Regions from separate parts of the Homo sapiens genome. Here region 2 is linked to region 1. Evidence: fine-mapped expression QTL. A gene starts in region 1. The other region holds a variant in brackets. All regions are shown on one strand. Distances are between the middles of the regions. Region 1 holds the start of UPP2 (uridine phosphorylase 2). Region 2 holds the start of CCDC148-AS1 (CCDC148 antisense RNA 1).

Region 1 (2,932 bases):
TGCCCTGTCCCAACGTCTAATGATTTCTCCGTCAGAAAATTTGGGGGACTGTCTATAGAAGTTTCTTGTTTCATTGGGCTCATCCAGAAGCACTTCTAAGATGATCACTTTATCAGTACCAAAGAAAAAACTTGTTTGGGATTTCATGCCAAATTTCTACCCAATATGAATGTAGTTTTTGGAATATTTGATTTTTCCAAAATATATAATTTTTACTAAATAGGTTTATATGTGTTGTTGAATCTTCAAACTCTTCTTCCTTTTCCTAACACATAGAATAGTCTTTTTAGTAAATCGTGACAAATTACACTACATGATGAGTATTAAATATTGGTAACCAAAAGAAAGTGCTGGCTGAGCAGAAGTCTTTCCATTTGCCATTACCTTCATCTTCATAATTTTTCCTTTTCTTTTTCTCCTGGGCTTCCCTGAAGAAGGGAACATGCAGGAGGCTACCTCTGTTTGGGATGGGCAAATGGAGTGTTTTCTGAAATGCTGACATAATGGAGGCTCTAAGCAAGACATTTCACACAACTCTCAGGAAATCAGAGGGAACCAGCAAAATCTCCTTATGCCTCATGATGATTAATGCTCTGTTGTGTTCTGTTAACCTGGGGCAGGAACTGGAGCTAAATTTGTAGACAGCTTCAGCAATTTTATATCTACCCATGAGATGAATCACATAGACGGTATTTCAGAAGTAAATTCTATGTAAGGTCCATCATGAAGCATATGAAATCACTCCACAATATCCTGCAATACAATTAAACCTCCCTCAGGCACTGGGAGGCCCTTTTAATTATTTCTCATTTGCAGCCCATGGTCTTAGAATTAAGGGCTGAACTCTATAGTGAGTCCCAGGCTGAACCTTGAATTTGTTTACTACTGAAGGTTGGCTAAACTTTTGCATGTTTTTTATAATTTATTTTGCCCCATTTTCTTAGATGAGCCAAACCCTAACCCCCAAAACCAAGGAGTAAAAATGTCATTGAAAATACATTTTCCACTGTTTTTATTGCTTTATGAGCTGCATCCAGTGATATAATCTCTACATTTAAGAAATTTGCTTAACTGTAGAGGCCCATTATCTAATCATTTAATACAAAATCCAAGGAGCAACCATCTGATCAAAACAAATTTACAAAATCAAAATTACTCACCCAACATATGTATTCCTGTCAGATCTCATGGACCTATTGGAGGCAGGTATAACTGAAGCCATTCTCTCTACTATGTGAAAAGTCACCTTAAATTGATGTCAAGAAAGAGAGATATTGTGACTTGTTATTAAATTATAGACCTAGTCATAATAGTTCAGTTCCCAGTCAGAATGATAACCTCTCTTAAAACTTAGGTTTTCCTGTGAAATTGCTAAGAAAATTTTTCCTTTAGCATTTTAAATTTTCCTATCAAATAAAAGATGTCCTCCCTGACATGACTTTTATACCACAGCCCAGCTCTCAGAGCAGCACTTCCTCAAGAAGATAGGCCCCCTTTGAAGGTGTGGCATCCTAGCTCTTTGACCAGGTTGGTTAGCTTGTTAACTATTGGTGAGAACTTTCCCTTACATCTGTCCTTGATCCCAACACAGGTTTGATGTTGCAAACAGGCTTATTTGCTTTGAGACAACTGTATATGGATACGAGTCCTCTTTTGGTTTCTATAACACACCTACCAGGTCTTCTCAAAACTGTGTCCAGTACATACGAGAACTTTCAGTTCTCAAACATTTCAGTTCCCCATCTCCATCCAGCCCCTCGCCAACTTGTTTTCATTCTTTGTCATCACAAGTTAGGGAAGCATCCAAAGTCTGGACCTCAGAATGTCCCTTTATCTGAACTTTGCTCATTCCAGTTCACACAGAAGAACTGATAATTAAACAAAACTTATTTCCCAGGGCCTCTTTCTTTAGTTAAACTGTAGGCCATTGGTAAAATTTATTGAACCAGGGGTTAATCCACATGGAATAATAATACAGCATAGTATTTTCAGAAAACGGAGTCTCTGCCAAGAAAGGCATGAATTCACTACTTTCACTAATGCTTCTCACTTTTCACTTTTGGGACAGAAAAATCTAGAAAACTAGACAACTTCATCCTGATCTTTTTTCTCTTCACTCCCATAGCAATCAGCTGAAGTTCTATGCTGGTGAGAGCTTCAAGAACGTAGTCTCATGGCTTTCAGGCAAATCAGAACCTAAAATGTCTATAAATGCCAAACAGCAGCAAATACAAGACACCTCCTAATATGCTTGGATTTCTTTCCAAGAATGTGCATCACAGTCAAGAATCAAGTGCTCATATCCTAACTGAGTTCTCCATGTTAGAAGATGCTCCTCTTCCTGGTGACAGTCATTCTTGGCAAATTCTTTGAATGCCCCACTGGCCTCCTTTGGTCCATCTTGGTCAGACAGCAAAGTTTACAGAATAGGAAGGAAAAAGAATAGGGGACTCTATATTGGGGAATCCATGTAGCCTAAATCTTGCCACTGTTACCACCAACTAGACGTTTGCAACTGTGCCCAGATAGCAAAAAATTCCTGAGGACACTTATCCTGGAAAAGGTAATGATGACTATGAGGCAAAATAGTCTTTAACATGTGTGTTGCCTTTGTAACTTAGAACAGTAGTTCTTGTTGATAGCTTGTATACATCTGTCTCTTACCTCCTGACTCATCTCAGGCTGGTCTACCTGCTGCTCCTTCCCAGGAACCACTGGCAATTTTGAGACTCAACATACTCACTCACTACTGCTGGCACCAGCACACCTTTATTTGATATTCCATGCCATATCTCTCAATTTTATTTTTAAGGTATAATGAGGAGAACCACCAATTTCAATCTGGCATTTACCTCTGGCTTTGAGAGGTAAAAATGTTAGCTAATTAGATAAGTGTTCAGTAATTAATTACCACAGTGAATTAACTAGGTTG
Region 2 (2,932 bases), 64 kb before region 1:
CTCTTCCACTGCTCAGAACTCTTGTGATCACATTAAGCCCACTCTGATAATTCAGAATAATCTCCCTATTTTAAGGTCAGGTGATTAGCGATCAGAATACCCTTTGCCATGTAACATAACATTCACAGATTATGGAGATTAGGAAATTGACATCTTTGGGAGACATTTTCTGCCTACCACGGGGTATATTATAAATTTGTAGTCAATTGCTAGTTGAGGACGTAGTCATCCAAAAGCTCAACTTGGCTGAATGACCAAGAGGACTCACTTACCTGACTGGCAGTTGATGCTGGTTGTTGGCTGGCAGCTCATTTGAGGTTGTCAATGGGACCGACCACCTACACATGACTTCTCAAGATGGCTTGGCTTTTCATAGAATGGTAGCTGGGTTCCAAGATAGAATTTTCCAAGAGCAAACATTCTAAGAGGTATAAAATGCAAGCTGCTAGACCAGTTAAGATCTACTGCTGGAACTGGGATAGGGTCTTTTCCTCCATACTCTTTTCATCAAAGCAGTCATAGAACTCTCCCAGATTAAAAAAGGCTGAGAAAAAGTCCACTTATTGATGGCAAGGTCACATTGGAAAAAAGTATGTGAAATAGGAAATATTTTTGCAGCCACTTTTTGAAATCTGTCATGTTTGTTATCGGGCATAACAAGATGTTTTAAGCTCATTTTGAATATTTCTTGCTCTGACCTGGAACTAACCTTTTCTCTGAGAAGCTTTGGTTCTTTTTATTGGAAAATCGTATTTCAAAACCAAAATTTGGAGACAAAGAATACACATTGCTACTAGGTTGATCTTCTATTCTAGACCTTTTCAATGAGCATGGTTAGAAAATACACACACACACACACACACACACACACACACTCCCATACATATGCATATACATACACATATACATATACATGTACAGACATATATACAAAACAGGCCAAGTGCAGTGGCTCACACCTGTAATCCCAGCACTTTGGGAGGCCAAGGCAGGTGGATCGCTTGAGGCTAGAAGTTCAAGACCAGCATGGCCAACATGGTGAAACCCTGTCTCTACTAAAAATATGAAAATTAATAAGGTGTGGTCGAGAGCGCCTGTAATTCCAGCTATTCAGTAGGCTGAGGCACAAGAATCACTTGAACCCAGGAGGCAGAGGGTGCAGTGAGACGAAATCGTGCCACTGCACTCCAGCCTAGGTGAGAGAACAAGACTCCGCCTCAAAAACAAACAAAAAAAACCCAACAAATCCAGACATACGCTTATATTATCTAAAGATAAAATTTTTTTTTATTTATTCTGTTACTTCAAATTCCATAGGATTTTCACTTGATATCTTGTATGTTACTTTTGTATTTTCTTTTTTCCTTACTGACAATTCTGGTGCCCAATTACACACGGATGTTAGAATATGACATAATTACTCATTTACATTATCCACACAAAAGTCTTAGAATAAAATACCAATATAATAAAAACAAAAATAATAAAATTTGGGGTTATTATGCCTTTTCTATTCTTTTTCTTTTTGTTATCTATATTG[C/T]GAGGGACTGTGTAGACATTATACACACTCTCTTTTATCCATGATTGAATCTTATTCTATTAGTAAATATATATTTACCAATACTGCCAGTTTTTAATGTCAATTTCTCTCTTGTCATTTAGGTTGTCTGAAGCCTGTTTTCCAGAAGATTATTTAGGAATTAGTCATGGAAGCAATATTTTCTGGGTCCTTGAATGTTAATAACAGGTTGATGGTCGTCTTTATAGTTGAAAATAAATTTTTCCTGGGTCTAAGATACTTTATTTACATTTTCTTTTCTTAGCATAAAATGTCAAAGGGCTGGCTATAACATGGTTTTCTTTCCCTAAGAATCACTTGATCTTTTTGCCTAATTAGAGTTTTTTTCACTTCCTTTATAATATAGCAGTTTTACTGGACTTTGTGTTTGTCATTCTGGGTTAATATACTTAGTAAATTATATTCCCTTTCACAATATAAATTCAATTTTATTTCAGGAATTTTGTAAAATTATAATTTTTAGTGTTTGTTATGTTTCCTTTTTTCCCCAGGACTGTTATTATGCTATTATGCTATGTTGGATCTTCTTTGTCTGTAGTCTTTATTTGTCACTTTGTTTTGAATTCTTTTAATCTCTTTCTTCATTTTTAAAAACTTTTTTTATTTGGAAATAACTTTATAGAATAGCCGCAAGAATAAAATTGTTGTAACTTTACCCCAGATTCTCCCATTGTTAACATTTTATTCAACTTTTAAATTGCTTTTGTGTTCTTCTTTAATTTGATTCATTTCTACAGCCTTTGTTGTCTTTCAAGACATTGACTTTTTATCGTGATAAATATACATAATATAAAATTTACTATTTTAACCATTTTTAAGCATACAGTTAAGTGGCATTAAGTATTTTCACATTGTTGTGCAACAATCACCCCTATTCATCTTCAGAACTTTTTCATCATCTCAACCTGAAACTCTGAACCCATTAAACAAAAACTATACACCTCCTCCCCTCAGCCTCTGGTAACCACTATTCTAATTTTTTTCTCTATGAATTTGTCTATTCTAGGTACTTCATATAAGCAGAATCATATAATACTTGTCCTTTTATGTGTGACTTATTTCACTTACCATAATGTTTTCAAGGTTCATCCATGTTGTGGAATGTATCAGAATTTCATTCCTTTTTAAGGCTGAAAACATCCCATTGTGTGTGTGTATATATATATATATAAATTTTTTTTATCTATTCATCTGTCAAAGGACATTTGGATTGTTTTCACCTTTTGGCTATAATAACAGTGCTATAAACATTGATGTACAAATATCTGTTCAAACCACTACTTTTAATTATTTTGAGAATATACTCAAGTGAAATTGGTAAATGATATGGTAATTTTATGTTTAAGATTTTGA

Evidence for each region. PIP is the estimated chance that this variant, and not a neighbour inherited with it, causes the effect.
Region 2: its variant is fine-mapped to the expression of UPP2 in prefrontal cortex (BrainSeq, PIP 0.95).

Annotation. Positions count from the first base shown.
Region 1 is chr2:158,100,354-158,103,285 of GRCh38, reverse strand. UPP2 (uridine phosphorylase 2) reads right to left here and starts at 1,410. Exons shown (of 7, transcript NM_173355.4): 1 at 1,161-1,410. The coding sequence starts at 1,222.
Region 2 is chr2:158,164,064-158,166,995 of GRCh38, reverse strand. It overlaps CCDC148-AS1 (CCDC148 antisense RNA 1), which reads right to left and starts at 346. Exons shown (of 5, transcript NR_038850.1): 1 at 273-346. The variant C/T (reference allele first, on the strand shown) is at 1,541.